Regions from separate parts of the Homo sapiens genome. Here all the other regions are linked to region 1. The links come from fine-mapping of genetic effects on gene expression. A gene starts in region 1. Each other region holds a variant in brackets. All regions are shown on one strand. Distances are from middle to middle.

Region 1 (4,000 bases):
TCCTTTAAGGGAGATTTTCTCCGTTTATCAGGAGCAATACCCTGCAGTATTAGAAATCACTATTTCTGACCGGGTGCAGTGGCTCACACCTGTAATCCCAGCACTTTGGGAGGCCGAGGCGGGCGGATAGCCTGAGGTCAGGAGTTCAAGACCAGCCTGGCCAACATGGTGAAACCCGGTCTCTACTAAAAATACAAAAATTAGCTAGGCATGGTAGCGGTTGCCTGTAGTCCCAGCTACTCAGGAGGCTGAGGCAGGAGAATCACTTGAACCTGGAAGCGGAGGTTGCAGTGAGCCGAGATGGCACCCCTACACTCCAACCTGGGCGAAAGAGCGAGACTCCGTCTCAGAAAACAAAAAAAAAGAAAAAAAGAAAAGAAAAAAATCACTATTTCTAATATCATTAGCCTTAAAAACTCAATAAACTTGCAAAGGCAAGAGTTCCTGCAGGCAGGGCCGCGCGTGGTGGCTCACGCCTGTAATCCCAGCACTTTGGGAGGCCAAGGCGGGCGGGTTACTTGAGCTCAGGAGTTCGAGACCATCCTGGCCAAAACGGTGAAACCCCCGTCTTTACCCCAAAAAAAAAAAAAAATTAGCCGGGTGTGGTGGCGTGCGCCTGTAATCACAGCTACTCAGGAGGCTGAGACAGGAGAATCGCTTGAACTCGGGAGGCGGAGGTCGCAGTGAGCCGAGATCGTGCCGTTGCACTCCAGCCCGGGCGACAGAGCGAGAATCCGTCTCAAAAAAAAAAAAAAAAAAAAGTTCCTGAAGGGAAAAGAGGCCCCTTGGGAGTATTCTCCAACCTCACCCAAACTATTCAACGGTAGGAATTCTCAACCTTTTAAGAATGGTAACGATGTCATTTTTCAACACTTTCTCTCTTCTCTGCCGTCCGCTTCAGAAATTAAAGTCATTCCCTTCCCCCAGTTCCAAGCCACTCACGAGGTGCCAGCTTGCAAAACCGGGGCGTTGGCACGAGTCTGGTAAATGCATGAAGCCCCCACAGTCCCCAGAATCTGAGGATGGCACCCAAGGCCTGCATTCTCCTAGCGTCGTCCTCTCTAAGCGCACAATTCCTTTCCCCAAAACCACCAGAACCCCCAGCCCTCGCCAAAGACAATCAAAGCCTAGAAAGGGTTCTCTTTCCTTTCCTTCTGATTCAGAAACCGCTTCTCACCCGCACCACCTCCCCACCTCCACTTTCCCTTCTGCCGCGAGCCCCCGGCCCTCCGTCCACCCGCCGCGGCCTCCCCAGCGCCCGGAGCTGCCGTCTCCCCTCCCGCACTCCCGTTTCCCCTCCTGAGGGGCGGAACGCTTACCTGCTCGATGGCCAGCTGCACCTCGGGCGTGAGCTGCAGCACGGCTTCCAGCTCCTCCACGAACTCCAGTTCCTCCTCCTCCATCATTCCGCCACCCGGCCCCCTGCCGACCCCCGCCGCGAGCCCAACTCAGGCCTCCAGCCGCCACCCAGGCCCCAGCACAGCAACTCCCTCGCGGCAGCGACCTGGTGAGCCCGGCTCCGTCAGCCGCTCTGTCAGCCGCTCCGGCACTTCCGGCAGGCCAGGGCACTTCCGGGACCGGGGAACTGTGGGATCACGGCGGACTGAGACTGGCGGCGTTCCTGTCACGTCAGGTGTCTCCCGGGCAACGCAGTATCCCGGCGGCCCCGCGTGGCCTCAGCGCGTCCTTAGGATGGGCGGGGCCTCTTCCCTCCCCAAGGCGCGCCCCGCACTGAGGACCCCGAGGTTGGGGTAGGGTCTGGCCTCCAGCAGGACGCCCGGATGAAAGTCAGCCCTGCGGCGTCGCCAACCGCAGCCCACAGCCTCCGCGGGCAGCGCAGCGGCGACCTCTCAGCTCCCGGGGCCCCCTCGGTCAGTGGCAGCGGGTGTCCCCGGCCACGGGGGCGACGTGATCCCAGCTGGCGAGTGGCGATGTCGCCAAGGACATTCGTAGGACGGGACAGTGCCCACTCGATAGAAATTCCCCGTGCGCCGGGCTCTGCGCAGAAGCTTTTCGAGGTGACTGCAGCCTCCTTATGGGGAGAAACGTCTTTTTTTTTTTTTTTTTTTTTTTTGAGACGGAGTCTTACTTGTTGCCCAGGCTGGAGTGCAACGGCGCGATCTCGGCTCACTGCAACCCCGCCTGCTGGGTTCAAGCGATTCTCCTGTCTCAGCCTCCCGAGTAGCTGGGATTACAGGCGCCCGCCACCACGCCCAGCTAATTTTTGTATTTTTAGTGGAGACGAGGTTTCACCATGTTGGCCAGGCTGGTCTCGAACTCTTGACCTCGTGATCCGCCCGCCTCGGCCTCCCAAAGTGCTGGGATGACAGGCGTGAGCTACTGCGCCCGGCCAGAAACGTTTTTTTAAAGCCAGATGACGCAGCGCCCTGGAGCTGGGGAGACGTTTACTGAGGTTGAATATCCGGGATCTAAGTCCTGAATAGTCCACCATTGATAAGTTGTGTGACTTGGAACAAATTACTACCCCGCGTCGATGTGGAGAGGATTAAACATTAACAGCGCGATGTAAATTCAAGCTGGTAATACAGGAAATAGTGAGGTGCCCAGCCCTTACCCCCACAAAGGAACAAATAAGCCAGATCACCGATCACCCTGTGAAACCACCTTTCCTGCAGACACTGAAAAGAAGGAGGGAATTGCAGCCCAAGGAGGACCCGCTCCACCAGGTGAACCGGGAAACTCCAGGAGGGAAACGCGTTGGCCCCACTGAACTTTTTTTTGTTGTTGTTATCAGAGTTGCTCAAAGTAAAAAATAGGAGCAGTATGATTTTTTCTTTTATTTTTAATTGACAAATAATAATTATATAAACAATGTAATTTCTAACAACAAAGGAATGCTAAAAAATATACATTAAAAAAAGAAAAAAAAGACAAAATAAAATATACATTGAACCTGGTGCAGTGGCACAGGCCTGCAGCCCCAGCTACTCAGGAGGCTGAGGCAGGGAATTATTGACTTTCTGAGATTGAATATCAGGGGTCTAGATCTCATCCCACCACTGAGGATCGCTTGAGCCCAGGAGTTTGAGGCTGCAGTGAGGAATGATTCCTTTGCGCCACTGCACTCCAGCCTGGGCCACAAAGGGAGACTCTGTCTCTTAAGTAAACATAGAATATTATTGATTCATAAAATCATGATTTTGAAAATTAATGACATGAAAAATATGCACAATATATTTCAGAAAGCAAAATGTATAATTTCATTTAAAAAATGCATAGCATGGTCCCAGCTTTGTGTGTATTCTGTGCCAATAAAGCTCACAGCAAGGAAATATTACTTTTCTGCACGTGATGAATGTACATCCTTTGTACATTTTCCCAAATGTCTACAATGAGCCTGTAGTTCTCTCATGCTCAGAAAATATGAATGCCTTTTTCTAAAAGGAAAAGGTAATTATAGCTACTTATTTTGGACTTTTTTTTTCCTTTAAAAAATTAAGATATTTACATACAGTAAAATTTACTCTTGCAATTTATGATGCAGTGAGTTTTGATAAATGTGTATAAACGACTGGGCATGGTGACTCACGCCTATAATCCCAGCACGTGGGGAGGCCGAGGCTGCCAGATCACTTGAGGTCAGGGGTTCGAGACCAGCCTGGCCAACATGGTAAAACCCGTCTCTATCTACTAAAAATACAAAACGTAGCTGGCCGTGGTGGTGCACAGAATCACTTGAACCCGAGAGGTGGAGGTTGCAGTGAGCCAAGATTGCACCATTGCACTCCAGCCTGGGTGACAGAGCAAGACTCCATCTCAAAACAAACAAACAAATAATAAGAAAACAATAATAAAACAAAATAAATAAATGTATATAACCATGTAACTACTACCACAATCTAGTTATAGGACAATTTCATTCCCCCAAATTCCCTCTTGCCTCACCCCATCCACTGGCAACCACTGACTTGATTTCTGTCCCTATAGTTTTTGTTTTTGTTTTTGTTTTTTTGAGACGGAGTCTCGCTCTATCACCCAG
Region 2 (4,000 bases), 190 kb before region 1:
TTAATCTGAGTAAAGCCTTACCTACCCTGGATGTTATTTATTGTTCCCATTTTACAGATGAGAAAAAGTTCCAGAGGATTAACAGCTCACCAAACTCATCTCATGCAACGGACGGGGTTAGACAAAAGTTGGACGGGAAGCTGGAATTCATTTCCGGTTGCCAGGTAACGGGGTTAGAGAAAAGGTGGACTGGAAGCTGGAATTCCATTTCCGGTTGCCCAGGTAACGGGGTTAGACAAAAGGTGGAAGGGAAGCTGGAATTCCATTTCCGGTTGCCCAGGTAAATGTCCCTGGGTGGTTTTGGTGACGAGCTCACACTGACTCCTGCTGACTGCCCTGCTCTGCTGCCGCCGCTGCTCTTGGCAACCAGGGAGCAGAGAAATGGCTGAAGACAGAAGGGTGTACTCTGGCCTGTTGAGATGGCTTAGGAGAATGGAACCACATGGTCACCAAGCAGACAACGGCAGCAGTGGGGTGACAGCTCCCAATGCCACCACTCAACTCCGGTGATAACGGCCAAACTTATATTCAGGGCAAGGCCTGTACTCTCTGCCACTGCCTGCTTCTTTGGGAAAGCCTTCTGTAATCCTATCAGGTAGGTGAGAAATGGGACCCTTCAGGCCCTGCGACACTTTGCATCCTCCAATTTCCTATTTACTTTGCTTTGGACAGAAGAATTAATGATTAAAGAGAAACTAAGTAACGACAGATACTATGAACTTAAGGGTTATGGCAATTGTAATTTTAACAATGGTAGAAACATGGGGAAGACGTCAGTGTTTTATGTGGAATAATTTAGGTGTGGTAAGGAATTACACTAAGGTCAGAGCAATTTCATGCAGCTAGTCAAAGGCCTGCACCACGCAGGTCATTCAACTGTAGCCAGCAAAGTGCAGGGCATTTTGGACCTTTCTGGATTTCTAGAGATAGAAATTCTTACTATCCTAGTGTCTGCTTTGTTGAAAAGGCCAAGGGCTCAGAGAAAAGGGTATGCAAACCTCCAGGAGGGGGAATGGCACTGATTGCTCAAGGCCCACGTGAAGAGCCTGGCGTTAGCGCACTTTCCAGAATTCCAGTGGAAATGACTGCTGCTTTTCCTCGGAGGAACCCAGAACAAGCCTCTAAAGCATTCTAGGTGGATTAAATTCTTAGATATAAAAAAGAAAAACTTTAAGAAGAAAATACAGGGCGCAGTGGCTCATGCCTGTAATCCCAGCATTTTGGGAGGCCGAGGCGGGTGGATCATCTGAGGTCAGGAGTTCGAGACCAGCCTGGCCAACATGGAGAAACCCCATCTCTACTAAAAATACAAAAATTAGCCGGGTGTGGTGGCGCATGCCTGTAATCCCAGCTACTCGGGAGGCTGAGGCAGGAGAATTGCTTGAACCTGGGAGGTTTGCGCTACAGCCTGGGTGACAGAACAAGACACTGTCTCAAAAAAATAAATACATAAAAAATAAAAAATAAAAAAGAAGAAGAAGAAGAAAATACAGAGATTATTTTCATTGCTTATGGGTGGAGAAGAATGTCAAACATCAGAAAGAATGAACCACCTACCCTAAAATGAAAGGCATCTATATCAGAAGAAACAAACAAAGTAAAAGACAAGACATAAATCAGGAGAAGATACGTGCAACGTTGACAAGGGAACGGGGTTCCGAACATGAAGATTCCTACACATCAACAGGAAAAGCACAAACTATCCCAACAGCGACACAACAACAGGCAAACAATACTAACACCGGATTCACAAAAGAGGAAACTCAAATGCCCGAAAGGCATATGAAATGACACGCAACCTGGTTAGTAACTGGGAAATGCAAATTAAAACCACAGATGTACACCATAATACATCCATCAGAGTCAGAAGTAAACAGATTATTTGATAATCAAGTGTGGGCACGGCCATGGCACTGAAATTCACAAATGTACACC[G/A]TAATACACCCATCAGAGTCAGAAGTAAACAGGTTGATAATCTAGTGTGGGCACGGCCACACTGAAATTCAGACTAGTGGTGACAGTAGAAGTTAGTTCAAGCACGTTGGGGGAAATTTAGCAACATTTCCTTAGCTGGAGATGTGTATCACCCATAACACAGCATTAATACTTATATCCATTAGAGGAATTCTTGCCCATGTAAAAACGTTCCCTGCATCCGCTATTTATAAAAGCAAAAGTTTGGAAACAACCTACACGTCCATTGACAGTGGAATGAATAAACAAATGACAGCACATTCGTGCAATGGAATATGCTGCTGAGGTGAAAATGAATGGGTGCACACAGCATGCATTAACATGCATAAATCTCAGAAAATAGTAAGTTGGGCAAAAAAAAGCAAGTGGGGAAATGATATGTCTAATGCCATTTATATAGTTTTAAAATATGCAAAACAAAATCATATATCATTTGTGAATATATACACATATATCAAAACACATATGAGAATAAAATCAAAATCAGGACAGTGTTTACTTTGGGGCATGGAGGAAGAGATGGGCAGGGTGGGGTTCATGGGGGCGGTCTTCAGCAATAACTGTAATGATTTACTTTACATAAAAATGATCTAAAGCAGGCAGGGTGTGGCAGCTCATGCCTGTAATCCCAGCATTTTGGGAGGCTGAGGCAGAAGGATCACTTGAGGCTACGAATTCAAGATTACCCTGGGCAACACAGTGAGACCTTGTCTCTACAAAAACAAAAATAATAAGATTAGACAGGCACAGTGGCACACACTTGTAGTCTCAGCTACTTAGGAGGCTGAGGTGGGAAGATGGCTTAAGCCCAGGAATTCCAGGTTGCAGTGAGCTATGATGGCACCATTGCACCCCAGCCTGGGAGACAGAGTGGGACCCTGTCTCTTAAGAAAAGAAAAAAAAAATGGGCCAGGCGCGGTGTCTCATGCCTGCAATCCCAGAACTTTGGGAGGCTGAGGTGGGAGGATCACTTAAGGTCAGGAATTTGAGACCAGCCTGGCCAACATGGTGAGACCCCATCTCTACTAAAATACAAAAATTAGCCAGATATGGTGGTGCACACCTGTAATCCCAGCTACTCGGGAGGCTGAGGCAGGAGAATTGCTTGAACTCGGGAGGTGAAGGTTGCAGTGAGCCGAGATCGCGCCATTGTACTCCAGACTGGGCAACACGGTGAGACATTTTCTCAAAAAAAAAAAAAAAAAAAAAAAAGATGTAAAGTAAATGTGGAAACATGTTACATATTTTGCTGAGCTGAGTAGTTAGTTACTGTTTTTTACATTATTTTCTGTACATTAATTAACTGGAATTTTTGTTTAAAGACTACCATTCAGGACTCAACTCTGTCTTCCATGTAGCAAATTTTGAGAGCCTTGTCAAAATCAAAGCCATGTCTTAGCATTCATTTGTTGGTAGGAAAAAAAAAATCAGTCATTATATTTTAAAGCATATGGAGATATTTCCTACTTTTCTACTTCCCAGAGATACATTATATGCATAAATAATTGTACAGTCTTAAATGACAGGAAGGGTTTGAATGCACCAGGCATAATTCTCTAGTGTCCCTCATATACAGGGAGATATGACACTTTCATTCCCTGGCCAGTCACCATAAAATTCTGTCTTTACCAGACACTGAGAGGTGAAAACCCTGGTCTCAGGTTTTATACATAAAGCAAGGCAGTCAGAAAAGGCGGGAATGAGCCTGACAGATTTGGCGGCTGTCTGTGCAAAGACAAGACAGAAAGGTCCCATTTATCATGAAAATCTGCTAGTTTTCAACTTTGAAATAGTTGATAATTCATCTTCTTAGGCATGAGACATTGGGCAAGGGGTGGCTATTGCCACATTCATTTCTGCCTCAGCGATAATTTCTGGGGCAGTGTGGGCTGGCTAATGTTGTTGATGGGATGTGGGGGTGCAAGGGTGGCCAGTATGCCATGCCTGTGAAGGCTGATCACCCAGCAATGGAAATCTTTGAGAGGGGCCCTTTACTTCCCGAGGAGCCTCCTACAATTCTTGGGGA
Region 3 (4,000 bases), 160 kb before region 1:
TTAGAGATCACAATAAAGGTGCTAAGAATGTATTACTTTTGTAATCAATAAAAACAATTTTCACTAAATAAAAAATAATTGGCCACTTGTATCATCAGTCATCAAAATGGTCTTCAACTTATTTCTAGAACTTCTAAGAGTCTGTTCTAGAAAACTAATGCAAAACATTTAAGATGCTATATTCAGAAAGACATTCTTTGTAAGGATTATCTTTTTTTTTTTTTTTTTTTTTAGAGACAGGGTCTCACTCTGTCACCCAGGCTGGAGTGCAGTGGTGTGATCATAGCTCACTGCAGCTTTGACCTCCCAGGCTCAAGCGATCCTCCAACCTCAGCTTCCCAAGTAGCTGAGACCACAGGCATGTACCACCACACTCAACTAACTTTTAAATTTTTTGTAAAGACCAGGTCTCACTATGTTACCCAGGCTGGTCTTGGACTATTGGCCTCAAGCGATCCTTCCACCTTGGCTTCCCAATATGCTAGGATTACAGGCGTGAGCCACTGTACCCTGCCAGGATTATCTATAAAAGCAAAATTTTGGCTGGGCATGGTGGCTCACGCCTATAATCCCAGCACTTTGGAAGGCCAAGGTGAGTGGATCACGAGGTCAGGAGATTGAGACCATCCTGGCTAACACAGTGAAACCCCGTCTCTACTAAAAATACAAAAAATTAGCTGTGTGTGGTAGCGGGTGCCTGTAGTCCCAGCTACTCACAGTGGCTCACGTCTGTAATCCCAGCACTTTGGGAGGCCAAGACGGGCAGATCACAAGATCAGGAGATCGAGACTATCCTGGCTAACACAGTGAAACCCGGCCTCTACTAAAAATAAAAAAAAATTAGCCAGGCGTGGTGATGGGAACCCGTAGTCCCAGCTACTCGCGAGGCTGAGGCAGGAGAATGGCGAGAACCCGGCAGGGGGAGCTTGCAGTGAGCCGAGATCGTGCCACTGCACTCCAGCCTGGGTGACAGAGAGAGACTCTGTTTCAAAAAAAAAGCAAAATTTGAAGCACTATAAACAACGATCAGGGATGCTTGCTAAATAAGTTATGGTACAAGGCCGGGCACAGGGGCTCACACCTGTAATCCCAGCACTTTGGGAGGCCAAGGCAGGTGGATCACAAGGTCAAGAGTTGGAGATCAGCCTGGCCAAGATGGTGAAACCCCATCTCTACTAAAAAAAAAAAAAAAATACAAAAATTAGCCGGGGATGGTGATGGGCATCTATAATCCCAGCTACTCAGGAGGCTGAGGCAGAAGAATTGCTTGAACCTGGGAGGTGGAGGCTGCAATGAGCCAAGATCATGGCCACTGCACTCCAGCCTGGAAGACAGAGCAAGACTCTGTCTCAAAATAAATAAATAAATAAATAATTTATGGTATAGTCCCTTAAAGAGAAATATTATGTGGCCATAAACAATGATAGTAATAATGACCCTGTAATGATAGTTATGATTATTACTATCATTATAATGACAGGAGAAATGCTAATGCTATGTATGACACTAACAATAAAAGGATATAACAGTGAATTAAGATTGTAACATTCAAAACTATGTCTATGAATAACAATTGAAAAAATACCCCAAATTGCTAATATGATTATTTGAGGATGATGGGATTAAAAGGGATCTTTATTTTTTTAAATACTACGGTTATTTTACCTTTAAAATAGCATATTTACATGTATCGTATTTCTTTCTGTGCACACCCAAAATAGTTAAACAGTGTTTCTTCATGAAAGAACTCTGGAACCCCTGCCTTGGAGGTCCTTACAGATAGTGCCATCTTACCTGGGGAGTGGCCTGGGGCTAAACGGACTGCTCTGTGGCTCCAAGGCCAAACCCTGGAAGGTCATGACCTTCGCAACTCAACATGACCAGGTCCCCAGGCAGAGTGTGCTGCTGCCTCTGCCTCTGGCTGGCTTATGTGCCACTGAGGGGCCTTGGTAGACACACTTCCTATTTGACCTGCTATATTGCTGCCCTGGCACACAGGAGCTCCAAGCTGGGCTGTCTGAACTATCATTTATGACTGTCTTCTTGTGGTCTAGGCATCTGTAAATTATAAATACAAAGTGGGTAGAAGAGCAGAACCTTTCCAAATTACTTTCTTTCTCTTGGCCTCAGGGGAATCCCAGACCAAGTGTGAAAAGGA[C/T]TTCTAATTCCATGTTTAAGGCTGAATCAAAGGTTATTCTGGGTCTTCCTTCTGCTCCATCAGTTGCTGAACTATGGCCATGTGGGGGCCTCCAGCAGAGGCATCACCCTTTCCTGTCCCCCAGTTCCTAAACGTCAGCATCCCAAACAATGGCTATTTGTTGAGGCAGATTGAAAATGCCATGTAAATTTCAGAAGACACATAAAAGCCCAAAGGATTCTGCTTAACTTAGTAACACTTCTGAGCATGGAATAACTGGCTGTGACTCATCATCACCAAAGGCTGGGTCCTAGCACAGACAAGCTTGTTACTGCTTTTCTCATATGGGTTGGAGTGCTACTGACCTACTTTTAACAGGTCATGCCCTTTGAGGAGCTTACACAACTCCAGGGAGGTGACCAGTCATACTTTCTTGCCCAGTCTTCTTTTAACAAGGCCTTTCTGTAAGACAGCTGCCTGGGCAGCCTTATGGCTGGACACTGAGCTTTCCTCTGTGGCAGGCCAACTGGTCTGACCCAAGGTTGTCTGTGGCCATGTTAGGACGTATATTCTTACTCGCCGAGCGACGCAGCCCAGAGGGTTCAGGAAAAGGAGGTGGTGAGTGGGCAGCCAGGATGGCTCACCTGCTGGGTGGTGGCCAGACAGTACTCTGCCGTGCTCAGGATGTTACAGATGAGGCAGAGCTCCTCCAGAGTGAACTTGGCTACTTCTGAGCCCTCCTTTTCCTTGAGGAGGCTGCTGATAGTCAGTCCTCCACTGCTGGTTGTGGTTCTGAAGAAAAGGAACAGGAACAAGTCAGCATGGAATTTCTAATTTGCTTCCTGAACTGGAAACTACATTATTTTAAGATACAGAAAAGGGGGAAGTAAAGGCTGGACATGGCCCAAATCAATTCACATACAATGAGTCCTTTTCCTACTGACCTTACCTTGACACCGTCAGAAATAGGAAGAGATGATTCCTATTTTAGTTAATCTGAATCATCAGCAGGCCATTAGTCACATTAACTAGGATGGTCTAATATCCAAAGGGAAGGCTGCTGAGCTGTCCTCTCTTTAGCTTGGAATCTCCTGATGTGCAGAACTCATTTAGGACCGTGTGGAGCACGAAAGATGGTTACCTACCCTGTTTCTTTCAGTTAAGAAAAGTCTGCACTGGGACTCATGTGTGCTGGTGGAGGAGGACATAAGCGCATGTTAAGAGAAGTCTGCACTGGAACTCATGTGTGTTTGTGGAGGAGGACATAAGTGAATGTTAAGAAAAGTCTGCACTGGGACTCGTGTGTGCTGGTGGAGGAGGATATAAGCGAATGTTAAGAGAAGTCTGCAAGGGGACTCATGTGTGCTTGTGGAGGAGGACATAAGCGAATGTTAAGACATGCTTCCTGCCCAAGGCCCTAAGTGTCTCAAGAGGCCAACACCCATCACACATCCTCCTGTGACTACAGGTTTTGGGGCAGCCCCAGCTACTGAGTGAGTTCTATGGTAGTAACCACTACCCACTCATATCTGGATGCTTTGGAATCCTCTGTTGGCTCCTTTCACCTTGCCCCCACTTCTGTGAACAGTCTCTCTACTGACATAATCCCAGCTGAGTATGCCATTTTTTTCTGCTGAGATGCTGACTAATACACGTGGGAAAATGCTCCCACGATGAAGTTAAACGGTAGCTGCAGGGAATAAAGCTATAAGCAGTATAGCCCCAATTCCGTGACACAAACAAACAAAAGCACACAGATCACACACATTAGGTATCTATCAAGAACGGAAAAATATATACAAAAAGTTACGTTCTCTTTGGGTAGTGGGATTATACATAATTTATTTATTTATTTATTTATTT
Region 4 (4,000 bases), 190 kb before region 1:
GTGTACAATTCAGTGGTTTTTAAGGTCTATTCACAAGGTTGTACAGCTGTCAGCATTATCTGGTTTCAGAACACATTATCACCCCAGAAAGAAACCCTTACCCATTAGCAGCCATTCCCATCTCCCCCTCCCTCAGCCTTTGCCAACCATTAATCCACTTTCTGTTTTACGGATTTGCCTGTTCTGGACATTTCACAGAAGCAGAGTCACACAATAGGTGGCTTTTTGTGTCTGGCTTCTTTCACTTAACATGGTTTCAAGGCTCTTCCATGTTGTAGCATGAATGGGTACTTTATTCCTTTTAATGGCTGAGTAATATTCCCTTGTATGGATAGACCACATTTTGTTTATCATCAGCTGATGGACATTTGAGTTGTTTCTACTTTCTGGCTATTATAAATGGTGCTGCTATGAATATTTGTGTACAAGCTTTTGTGTGAACACATTTTTTTTTCAATTCTTTTTTTTTTTTTTTTTTTTGAGACAGAGTCTCACCCTGTCACCCAGCCTGAAGGTACAGTGGCGCAATCTTGGCTCACTGCAATCTCTGCCTCCCAGGTTCAAGTGATTCTCCTGCCTCAGCTTCCCGAGTAGCTGGAGTTACAGGTGCACACCACCATGTACAGCTAATTTTTGTATTTTTAGTAGAAGTGGGTTTTCACCATGTTGGCCAGGCTGGTCTCGAACTCCTGACCTCAGGTGATCTGCCTGCCTCAGCCTCCCAAAGTGCTGGGATTACAGGTGTGAACCATGCACCCTGCCTTTTTCAATTCATTTGGGTATATATCTAGGAGTATAATTGCTGGGCCCTGTGGTAACTCTATGTAAATGCCAAACTGTTTTCCAAAATGGCTGTACCGTTTTGCATTACCACCAGCAATGTATGAGTGTTCTAATTTCACCAAATCCTCTTTGGAATTGATTTTTATATATGGTGTGTGGCAAAGGTCAAGATTTTTTTCCGATATGGATATCCAATTACCCAGCACTATTTACTGAAAAGACTCTCTTTGAATGATGCCACTTTGGTCATAAATCAAGTATCTACACATGTGTGGGTCTATCCCTCAGCTCAGATCTGTTCTGTTGGCCTCTTTGTCCCTGGGGCCAGTGCCACACTGCTCTAATTACAATACTGCTGCAATAAGTCTTGATATCCTGAGCTTTAACTCCTCCAATTCTGTTCTAAGATTATTTTGGCTGTTGTCTTCTGTATTTTCATCTAACTTTTAAAATCAGCATATCAATTCACACACACACACTCACACACACACACACACACACACACCCCTGCTGGGATTCTACTGTATCTATAGATAAATTGATACAGTAATTAGGATTGAATTCTATCTATAGATTAATTTTGGAATAATTTGCCGCTTTTTAAATTGTTATTTATTTTTTATTGGGCAGCCTCCTCAGCCAGAGCAGGCTCAGAAAGACTCCATATGTATTTCTTTTTGAGTCTTTCTTATCAATGAACATGAGCTATCCTGTCATTTTAAAGGTCTTTATGGATTCTGTGTCTTAATATTGTACAGTTTTCTGTGTAGAAGACTTGTACATTTTTAATTTACTCCTAGGTATTTAATGTTTCCTGATGTTATTGTAAATGATTTCATTTAGGCCTGGGAGCCATGGCTCACGCCTGTAATCGCACCACTTTGGGAGGCTGAGGAGGGTGGAGTTTGAGACCAGCCTGGGAGACACAGGGAGGCAGACCCTATATCTACCAAAAAAAAAAAAAAAGAGCCAGCCAGGCATGGTAGTACATTCCTGTAGTCCCAGATACTTGAGAAGTTGAGGCAGGAGGATGGCTTGAGCCCACGAATTGAGACTGCAGTGAGCTATGATTGTGCCACTGTACTCACTCCAGCCTGGGCAATACAGCAAAAAAAAAAAGTATTTCACTCAAAAATGTTCATTTTTAAATTGTTTGCTGCTGGTATATAGAAATATATTTTAAAACACTTTCCTTATAGCCAGCAACCTTGCTAAATTTATATT[CT/C]TTTTTTTTTTTTTTTTTTGAGACGGAGTCTCTATCACTCAGGCTGGAGTGCAGTGGCGCAATCTCAGCTCACTGCAACCTCCCAGGTTCAAGCAGTTCTCCCAGGTTCAAGCAATTCTCCTGCCTCAGCCTCTCGAGCAGCTGGGATTACAGGCGCACCACACCTTGCCCAGCTAATTTTTGTATTTTTAGTAGAGACGGGGGTTTCACTGTGTTGGTCAGGCTGGTCTTTAACTCTTGACCTTGTGATCCGCCCGCCTCGGCCTCCCAAAGTGTTGGGATTAAGGGTGTAAGCCACTGCACCCGGCCTGCTAAATTTATATTCTAACAGTTTATCTGTAGATCCTTTTAGATTTATTACTCATAATCATATTTTCCATGAAAAATGACAGCTTAGTTTCCTCCTTTCTAATCTGTATATATTTTGTTTCTTTTAAAAATATTGTATTTTTTGCCTTGTTGTCCTAGCCAGGACTTCAACAACAACGTGGGATAGAAATGGTGACAGCGGACATTCTCCTCTTATCCTTAATCTCAAGGGAAAGAAAAGCTTTCATAGGTGAACGCAGTCATAAGAATAATTAGTGACCCTGCAAAACAGGATGATCTGAAGATCATAAACTAGCAAGAAGCATGATCAATATTGGTGTGGGTCAGTTCCACGTGCCCTTGCAATTGCTCGAGGACTCTGGGGCCCAAAGATAAAGAACTCACTTTATATAGTACTCAGAGAACAAAGAGCAGAAAAATGTCTCCCATCCCATTTTCAGCATAAGTATTAAAGCAAAACCTAATTTAGGATCTGGCACCCTTGTGGCAAGGCAGACACAGCTGAGGTTGGGCTAAATCTTAGCTTCCAATGCCATAGCTTTTGTTCAAGTTTGGATGGCAGCTGCTCCACTACTGGAGGCAGCGTCTGTTTCAGTCTATGAACACTGCTGAGTTAACTTGATTCTGATGGTTCTGCTGCCTGAGTGAACACGCCTGCAGCTACATGGCTGCTTGAGTTTCAAGGCCCAGACATCAGGGCAAGTACAGGCCCAGCCAAACCTCAACTCATGTGAGAATCGTTCAGGGGCCACGTTGCCCTGTAGTTCCCACCCACACCCTCCCCATTCTGGGCCTGTCAAGATCCACACTCCCCTACTGCCCACCTGAACTGGCCTGGGGTCTGATTAAGTAAAACTCCAGTTCCAGCAGATGGTTTTCTCATCCACACCTCAAAACGGAAGTAAACATAGGATGTTGGCTGTGGGTTTGTTAAAAAATAATAACAATAATGGATGTAAGCACTGGATGAACTGATATTTTTCTGAAGATATTGGCTTTGGGTCTGAGCTTACTATAATCATTAAAAGACTCTTTTTTTTTTTGTGGGGCAGATGGTGTCTTACTCTGTTGCCCAGGCTTCAGTGCAGCGGCACGATCATAGCTCACTTCAGCCTGGATTCAAAGAATCCTCCGACTTCAGCCTCCTCCTGAGCAGCTGGGACTACAGGTGTGGACCGTTTTTTAGCTAATGTTTTATTTTTTTTGAGAGATAGGGTTGCACTATGTTGCCCAGGCTGGTCTTGAACTCCTGGCCTCTAGTGATCCTCCCATCTCAGCCTCCCATCACTGGGATTTATTCTTTTTTTTTTTTTTTTTTTTTGAGATGGAGTCTCACTCTGTTGCCCAGGCTGGAGAGCAGTGGCGTGATCTGAGCTCACTGCAACCTCCACCTCCACCTGCAAGTGATTCTCCTGTCTCAGCCTCCCAAGTAGCTGGGATTACAGGCATGCACCACCACGCCTGGCTAATTGTTTTTTTTTTTTTTTTTTTTTTGAGATGGAGTTTCGCTCTTGTTGCCCAGGCTGGAGTACAGTGGTGTGATCTCAGCTCACTGCAACCTCCACCTCCTGGGTTGAAGCAATTCTGCCTCAGCCTCCCGAGTAGCTGGGATTACAGGCGCCCACCATCACGCCCGGCTAATTTTTTGTATTATTAGTAGAG
Region 5 (4,175 bases), 560 kb before region 1:
GGCCTTGCTTCTGTGAGCTGTACTTGAGGGAGATGAGGATGCGGCCCCGCTCCTCCAGGGACTTGTCTTCAGTCTTGTCCACCTGTTGGACGGGACGGTCACTCAGTCCTCACCTGCTCCCACCCCTCTCTTGGCCGTCCTTGGCCTCCTCTTCCTGAGCCCGCCCATCCGGCTGCTGCAGCCGGGCCTGGTCACGGTCCCTGGTGAGTGGCCTCACTGTGAACTCACAGCCCTTCTGTCATCTCTTCCCTCCCAAGGGCTCTTCCAGGGCTGGATCTGACCCACACCCTCCCTGTTCTTGGCTGCATGTGGCCTACGGTGGCCTTCACAGCCCAGCAAGGGCCAGCCCAGGGGTTGGCAACTGCAGCCCGGGGGCCAGATCAGGCCCGACGCCTGGCTCTGTGTGGGATGTGAGCTAAGCATGGCTCTTACCCTTATCTTAAACAATTTCTTTTTCAAAAAAATAGAGACAGGGGTCTCACTATTTTGCCCAGGCTGATCTCAAACTCCTGGGCTCAAGGGATCTTCCCACCTTGGCCTCCCAAAGTGCTGGGATTACAGACATGAGCCACCGTGCCCAGCTGGTTCTTACTTTTTGGAATGGCAGAAAGAAAAATGAAATGAAAAATATTTTGTGACACATGAAAATGACATGAAATTCACACTTCAGCTTCCATTAACACCGTGTTGTTGGAACGCAGCCTTGCCAGCTCCGTGATGCTTCTCTATGGCTGCTTTTGCCCTAAGGACAGAGCTGCATGGTGGCCACAGATTGCGAGGCACACAGAGCCTAACATTAGCGCTAAGCGGCCCTTCACGGGTCTGCAGCCCCCGGCCTGGCGCGCTCGGCTTCCGCGGACGGTCTTCCACCAGGTCCTCCTCACAGCCCGCCCGGACTTTCCCTTGGCTTTGAAGCCGGGTCCCACCTCCACACCTTTGCGCACCCTTAATCCACAGCTCCAGCACCCTCCTCTGACCTCCTCAGTGTTCACCGTTGATAAATTCCTGGTCCTTCTGGGCCTGGGGGGCTTTTCTGACCCTCAGGGTGGGTTGGCCGTCCCCTCTGCGCGCCCACTGCCTCGGGTTTATCCTGTCATGGCCTGGTGTGGCCCCCTGCTTCCTCAGGGCTCTGCCCCAGCCTCTAAGTTCCTTGAAGTTGGAACTCTACCTGTAAATTTTGATTTTGACAGAGTCTGACTCTTGTCACCCAGGCTGGAGTGCAGTGGCATGATCTTGGCTCACTACAACCTCTGCCTCCCGGGTTTAAGCGATTCTCCTGCCTCAGCCTTCTGAGTAGCTGGGACTACAGTCTAATTTTTCTATTTTTTGGTAGAGACAGGGTTTTGCCATGTCTGCCAGGCTGGTCTCGAATTCCTGACCTCAAGTGATCCACCCACCTCAGCCTCCTGAAGTGCTGGGATTACAGGTATGAGCCACCGCATCCAGATAATACCTGCGTCATCTTTAATACCTCAGGGCTGGGCAAGGCCCTGGCACTAAGGGCCCACTGGAGGCTTGTACTAGTGAAGGCAGGAATGGAGGGACAGATGGTCCCCTGTGCGTTCAACCTCATACAAGCAACTCCAGCCTGGAGGTTCAAAGAAAGGCAGAAAGGTCTGCCCATGACAATGGAGCCTGGTGGATGGAAAAGGGTCACCGTGGCCCCAGTTCCCTGAAGGTGCTACCTGGAGCCTCTCAGGGTGCTGGATGTGGCTCCCTCAGGAGAACCCCGAAGACAGAGTTCTGGTACATTCCTCACCCTGGAGAAGCTGGGAGCCAAGTAGGGAGCCCATCCAGTGCCTTCCCTGCCTCAGCAGCTGCCAGTGCCTGCCTCTCAAGGCAGATCTCAGCTCCAGGCCTCCCCATCCCCAGCCAGCCTGATGCTTCTCCATTCCTTGCCCTCCCGAGACTACCCGGCTTCTTCCTTCTGGCTGCTGCACACCCCAAACCCTCTCTCCTAGGCCCTCAGCCCCCCCAGACAAACCCAGCTTGAGCCCACCCACACACGCCCAGCTTGAGCCCTGTGTCCCCCTGGATCCCCTTAGGACTCTACCAGGCTCCTCTCCCAAGCAGCCCCAGCCACCTCCTTTTGCCCACAACCGTGCCCTGCCTAACACCAAAGTGAGTCCCTCTGGCTACATCTAACCCTTTCTGGAGATGAGACTCCTGTGAGGTGAGCAGGGATGTTGAGCAGGGAAGACATACATGCCCCACCAGCCACCTTCGCCACCTCCCACGCCCAGAGCAGACATGGCTAATCGATCCTAGCATTTGCCCTAGGCTCCAATGCCACCTCAGAATCCTTTTCAACACAGTGCTCAGGCAGCCATTCCTGGTGGATCAGGCCAGGCCTGCGAGATCTCGCTATCTGCCGCTCAGGCAGAGCTTTGTGTGTGAGGGCCTTGATGCCCTGTGCTGCTTGTGTCAGTGTGTGTGGTGTGAAAATTAAACAATATAAAC[T/C]AGCAGGGGCCAGGCACAGTGACTCATGCCTGTAACCCCAGCACTTTGGGAGGCCAAGGCGGGCAGATCACCTGAGGTCAGCAGCTCAGGACCAGCCTGGCCAACATGGTGAAACCCCATCTCTACTAAAAATACAAAAATTAGCCGGGTGTGGTGGCGCATGCCTGTAATCCCAGCTATTGGGAGGCTGAGGCAGAAGAATCACTTGAACCCGGGAGGCGGAGGTTGAAGTAAGCCGACATTGCGCCACTGCACTCCAGCCTGGGCGACATAGACTCCATCTCATAAAAAAAAAAAAAAAACAACCAACCAGCAGGCATATTTTTAGCTCTTTTTTCAGGGGTGGGACATTGTACTTCGGGTTGTTTCATATGAAGACCACTGGGTCTTGCTCAGTATTGACTTAAAACAGATAATGTTCGCAGACTGTAAATTCTAAAACCTACCGCCAGAGGCCTGGCACAGGGGCTCATGCCTGTAATCCCAGCACTTTGGGAGGCCGAGGCAGGAGGATCACTGGAGGTCAGGAGTTTGAGACTTGCCTGGCCAACATGGCGAACCCCCGTCTCTACTAAAAATACCAAAATTAGCCAGGCGTGGTGGCGCACACCTGTAATCCCAGCACTTTGGGAGGCTGAGGCAGGTGGATCATTCAAGGTCAGGAGTTTGAGACACCTGGACAATATGGTGAAACCCCATCTCTACCAAATATACAAAAATTAACCAGGCGTGGCGGCACACGCCTGTAGTCCCAGCTACTCGGGAGGCTGAGGCATGAGAATTGTTTGAACTCAGGAGGTAGAGGTTGCAGTGAACAGAGATTTTGCCACTGAACTCCAGCCTGGATGACAGAGCAAGACTCAGTCTCAAAAAATAATAATAATAAAAGTACCACCAGAATGTGGCTGTACTGTCAGGGGTGCATCCCCAGCTGCACTCCTGCGGTCACTGTGAGTCCCTGAACGGCACCAATGGGCCGGTAGCGCATCCAGCAACGCCCTGATCATGGCCACGCACAGGGACGCACATGCTTTCACGAACGCACACCACACATGTGGACACACACACTGTCGCACACAGACACGTACTGACATATGCTCTTACACACAATTCACACACGAGCACACACACACACACGCTGACACCCCACGTACATACCCACGTGGTTGTTTGTTTATGCCAGTGATGAAAACTCAGGAACACTAAGGCAGGGCTGGTGTTGCTTTTTTTTTTTTTTTTTGAGACAGAGTCTTGCTCTTGCTCTTGTCACCCAGGCTGGAGTGCAACGGTGCAATCTCGGCTCACTGCAACCTCCGCCTCTCAGGTTCAAGCGATTCTCCTGCCTCAGCCTCCTGAGTAGCTGGGATTACAGGCATGCACCCCCACACCCGGCTAATTTTTTTATTTTTAGCAGAGACGGGGTTTCGCCATGTTGGCCAGGCTCTCTCGAACTCTTGACCTCATGACCCACCTGCCTTGGCCTCCTAAGATGTTGCCTTTCTTAAGTGACATAGACCATGTGGAAAAACCGGGTTACCTGTGGTTAGTGACTAACAATAAAACAGGAAAGGTTATATCCATCACACAAATGTCTGAGGGGGAGAGAATGTGACAAGGAATAAAATTGGATCAAATTCTGCAAAAGTAACTGGGATTCTGGGAAGAAGCCGTGGCCTCAGGCTGACTCGCCCCCGGGGCTTGACTTGGGCTAAGCT
Region 6 (4,175 bases), 210 kb before region 1:
CAGATGTGAGTCAGGCTAGAAGGGCATCGGTGACCTTCCAGAGAAGGGTCAAGACAGATGTGAGTCAGGCTAGAAGGGCATCGGTGACCTTCCAGAGAAGGGTCAAGACAGATGTGAGTCAGGCTAGAAGGGCATCGGTGACCTTTGAGAGCAGGGTCAGGACAGTGGTTGAGATGGAAGCTGACTTTCTAGAAGGGCATCGGTGACCTTGGAGAGCAGGGTCAGGACAGTGGTTGAGATGGAAGCTGACTTTGTAGAAGAGCATTGGTGACCTTCGAGAGCAGGGTCAGGACAGCGGTTGAGATGGAAGCTGACTTTCTAGAAGAGCACCGGTGACCCTCGAGAGCAGGGTCAGGACAGTGGTTGAGATGGAAGCTGACTTTCTAGAAGAGCACCGGTGACCTTCGAGATCAGGGTCAGGACAGCGGTTGAGATGGAAGCTGACTTTGTAGAAGAGCATTGATGACCTTCGAGATCAGGGTCAGGGCAGTGGTTGAGATGGAAGCTGACTTTCTAGAAGAGCACCGGTGACCCTCGAGAGCAAGGTCAGGACAGCGGTTGAGATGGAAGCTGACTTTGTAGAAGAGCATTGGTGACCTTCGAGATCAGGGTCAGGACAGCGGTTGAGATGGAAGCTGACTTTCTAGAAGAGCACCGGTGACCCTCGAGAGCGGGGTCAGGACAGTGGTTGAGATGGAAGCTGACTTTGTAGAAGAGCATTGGTGACCTTCGAGATCAGGGTCAGGACAGCGGTTGAGATAGAAGCTGACTTTCTAGAAGAGCATTGGTGACCTTCGAGAGCAGGGTCAGGACAGCGGTTGAGATGGAAGCTGACTTTCTAGAAGAGCACCGGTGACCCTCGAGAGCGGGGTCAGGACAGTGGTTGAGATGGAAGCTGACTTTGTAGAAGAGCATTGGTGACCTTCGAGATCAGGGTCAGGACAGCGGTTGAGATGGAAGCTGACTTTCTAGAAGAGCATTGGTGACCTTCGAGAGCAGGGTCAGGACAGCGGTTGAGATGGAAGCTGACTTTCTAGAAGAGCACCGGTGACCCTCAAGAGCGGGGTCAGGACAGTGGTTGAGATGGAAGCTGACTTTGTAGAAGAGCATTGGTGACCTTCAAGATCAGGGTCAGGACAGCGGTTGAGATGGAAGCTGACTTTCTAGAAGAGCACCGGTGACCCTCAAGAGCGGGGTCAGGACAGTGGTTGAGATGGAAGCTGACTTTGTAGAAGAGCATTGGTGACCTTCGAGATCAGGGTCAGGACAGCGGTTGAGATGGAAGCTGACTTTCTAGAAGAGCATTGGTGACCTTCGAGAGCAGGGTCAGGACAGCGGTTGAGATGGAAGCTGACTTTCTAGAAGAGCATTGGTGACCTTCGAGAGCAGGGTCAGGACGGTGGTTGAGATGGAAGCTGACTTTCTAGAAGAGCATTGGTGACCTTCGAGAGCAGGGTCAGGACAGCGGTTGAGATGGAAGCTGACTTTCTAGAAGAGCACCGGTGACCTTTGAGAGCGGGGTCAGGACAGTGGTTGAGATGGAAGCTGACTTTGTAGAAGAGCATTGGTGACCTTCGAGAGCAGGGTCAGGACAGTGGTTGAGATGGAAGCTGACTTTCTAGAAGAGCACCGGTGACCCTCAAGAGCGGGGTCAGGACAGTGGTTGAGATGGAAGCTGACTTTCTAGAAGAGCACCGGTGACCCTCAAGAGCGGGGTCAGGACAGTGGTTGAGATGGAAGCTGACTTTGTAGAAGAGCATTGGTGACCTTCAAGATCAGGGTCAGGACAGCGGTTGAGATGGAAGCTGACTTTCTAGAAGAGCACCGGTGACCCTCAAGAGCGGGGTCAGGACAGTGGTTGAGATGGAAGCTGACTTTGTAGAAGAGCATTGGTGACCTTCGAGATCAGGGTCAGGACAGCGGTTGAGATGGAAGCTGACTTTCTAGAAGAGCATTGGTGACCTTCGAGAGCAGGGTCAGGACAGCGGTTGAGATGGAAGCTGACTTTCTAGAAGAGCATTGGTGACCTTCGAGAGCAGGGTCAGGACGGTGGTTGAGATGGAAGCTGACTTTCTAGAAGAGCATTGGTGACCTTCGAAAGCAGGGTCAGGACAGCGGTTGAGATGGAAGCTGACTTTCTAGAAGAGCACCGGTGACCTTTGAGAGCGGGGTCAGGACAGTGGTTGAGATGGAAGCTGACTTTGTAGAAGAGCATTGGTGACCTTCGAGAGCAGGGTCAGGACAGTGGTTGAGATGGAAGCTGACTTTCTAGAAGAGCACCGGTGACCCTCAAGAGCGGGGTCAGGACAGTGGTTGAGATGGAAGCTGACTTTCTAGAAGAGCACCGGTGACCCTCAAGAGCGGGGTCAGGACAGTGCTTGAGATGGAAGCTGACTTGCTCGGCAGGAATGCATGTGGGGATGGGGGCAGTGGACT[C/A]CCTTGACGCACTAACAAAACCGACAGGCTGTGGGGGGGAGTGGCATCAGGAAAAGCAGGGGGACCCCTGTTCACTTCTGCAAGCAGAGGGTGAAAGGGGACAGTCTCTGAAGACCTGGGTGGGGCAAAGGACAGACCCCAGGACTGGACAGCTAGGGAAAGTGGTGTGGTGAGTTGAGAGCAGGATATTGAGAGTGGCATGTACACAAGTGGCTTAGCTTTTGCCGCTCCTCTTCTATGGCGGGGAGTAAGCCAGTGATTAAACCTCTTGAGATCTCAGCATCCCATCTACAAATGGAGGGACTTTGACAAAGTTCCCAACACGGAAACAAACACACCACCCAACCCCGATGCTCTAATTCCAACCTTCATGCCCCAATTCTGAGTTTCCCAACTGGAATGCTGGGGCCACCGCAAAGGTATCCAGCAAATGGCCAGATACTGATCCCTTTAGCCTTGGGGCTGTGGAGGGAGGGAGGTGTCCCCAGGCCCATCACTTCCGGCCCCAGCAGCCTCTTCTGTTGAGGGAAGAGGAGTTACTCATGTCGTCACTTCTGTTTCAAGTCCTGAAAAGGTCGGGAAGCATTGCCTACACAGTCATGCGAGGTCTCAAGCACAAGATTTGGGGCTTTTGGAAGGATTGGGTTCTTCTGATCGCCCACCTCCCTCTGACCAAGCCCCTTCTCCATCCCAGTGACACTGCTTTGTTCTTAGTACTGTCTCCCTTGCACCAGGGGTTACTCAGAGGGTTCTCAGATGTTCTTTCCAAAGGCCACAAGGCCTCGTCTCAGTTGTGCCCCACAGCCTTATGGGTCGAGCATCCGAAATACAAAATGCTCCAAAATCCAAAATATTTTGAGTGCTGACATGACACCCAAAGGAAGTGCTCACTGAAGCGATTTGGATTTGGGATTTTCCAATTAGGGATGCTGAAGTGGCATGTACATAATACACATATTCCAAAATCAAAAAAAAGCTGAACTCCAAAACACTCCTGGGCCCAAGCATCTCAGATTAGGGATGCTCAACCTGTATTTGCACAGAATTTGGGAGAGAGTTTAGGTGCTATTGTTGAATGGGTGGCTACCTCAAGTCAAACGGTGCCCTTTCCTGTACTAGGTGACAGTGCCAAGCCTGACCTCCCCTCTAAGGTCAGAAAAACAATGAGCAACGTGCGTCAATGAGGGCAGCAGCTTCCAAACAGACACCTGGGGAAACCTGGAAATCTTCAGTGATGTTTTGGTGGAGTGAGAACCTCTACAAAGGTTTGATTCTAACTTCACTTTTAAAATGCATTTAGTTTTAGTTCTAAAAACTAAACATTAAAAATGGTAATAACGCAACGCGCATCCTCAAATGTCTTCTGGGGGCAAATGTAAGATGTCGGAGGCCCTTGCTTCTGTTAACCTCTTTCTCCAAGGGCTGTTCACGGCCATGAAGACTTCAGGAGACAAGGAGCCTGTTACCATCTCTGTTTAATTGAAGAGCCTCTACCATTGCAAGAAGAGCTGTTTAAAACAAAACAAAATGGATACTATTTGAAAATTCTTAGCTGGATTAAATCAAGATTTCTCTATTCTGTGCAACCCAGAAGTAAACTGGGGTTGATACACACACATTTTCATCCATAACCTTGGTTTAAAGTGCTTCCTATTTGCTGGAATAGTTTTCAATGCTTTTACTGATTTCTTCTGAAAAATATTTGAACTCATAAAATGTATTCATAAAATACTTTTATC

What was found.
Region 2: its variant is fine-mapped to the expression of VPS53 in whole blood (TOPMed, PIP above 0.99).
Region 3: its variant is fine-mapped to the expression of VPS53 in whole blood (INTERVAL, PIP above 0.99).
Region 4: its variant is fine-mapped to the expression of VPS53 in Th17 cells (Schmiedel 2018, PIP 0.95).
Region 5: its variant is fine-mapped to the expression of VPS53 in fibroblasts (GTEx, PIP 0.90).
Region 6: its variant is fine-mapped to the expression of VPS53 in sun-exposed skin (GTEx, PIP 0.96). The same link has a PIP of 0.9 or more in spleen.

What each region holds. Positions count from the first base shown.
Region 1 is chr17:713,304-717,303 of GRCh38, forward strand. It overlaps VPS53 (VPS53 subunit of GARP complex), which reads right to left and starts at 1,536. Exons shown (of 22, transcript NM_001128159.3): 1 at 1,320-1,536. The coding sequence starts at 1,406. RefSeq lists an enhancer at 2,008-2,077.
Region 2 is chr17:522,835-526,834 of GRCh38, forward strand. All of the region lies in intron 19 of VPS53 (VPS53 subunit of GARP complex), which reads right to left. VPS53-AS1 (VPS53 antisense RNA 1) reads left to right here. Exons shown (of 3, transcript XR_007065570.1): 1 at 1-595. Among named protein-coding and RNA genes, the nearest start is that of VPS53-AS1, 2.1 kb to the left of the region's middle. The variant G/A (reference allele first, on the strand shown) is at 1,936.
Region 3 is chr17:557,645-561,644 of GRCh38, forward strand. It overlaps VPS53 (VPS53 subunit of GARP complex), which reads right to left. Exons shown (of 22, transcript NM_001128159.3): 15 at 2,782-2,929. Among named protein-coding and RNA genes, the nearest start is that of VPS53-AS1, 37 kb to the left of the region's middle. RefSeq lists an enhancer at 2,357-3,556 and a silencer at 3,572-3,621. The variant C/T (reference allele first, on the strand shown) is at 2,159.
Region 4 is chr17:528,136-532,135 of GRCh38, forward strand. The region is part of intron 19 of VPS53 (VPS53 subunit of GARP complex); the gene reads right to left. The region is part of intron 1 of VPS53-AS1 (VPS53 antisense RNA 1); the gene reads left to right. Among named protein-coding and RNA genes, the nearest start is that of VPS53-AS1, 7.4 kb to the left of the region's middle. The variant CT/C (reference allele first, on the strand shown) is at 2,008.
Region 5 is chr17:156,296-160,470 of GRCh38, forward strand. DOC2B (double C2 domain beta) reads right to left here. Exons shown (of 9, transcript NM_003585.5): 6 at 1-82. Among named protein-coding and RNA genes, the nearest start is that of SCGB1C2, 21 kb to the left of the region's middle. The variant T/C (reference allele first, on the strand shown) is at 2,461.
Region 6 is chr17:504,775-508,949 of GRCh38, forward strand. VPS53 (VPS53 subunit of GARP complex) reads right to left here. Exons shown (of 22, transcript NM_001128159.3): 22 at 3,894-4,175. Among named protein-coding and RNA genes, the nearest start is that of VPS53-AS1, 16 kb to the right of the region's middle. The variant C/A (reference allele first, on the strand shown) is at 2,437.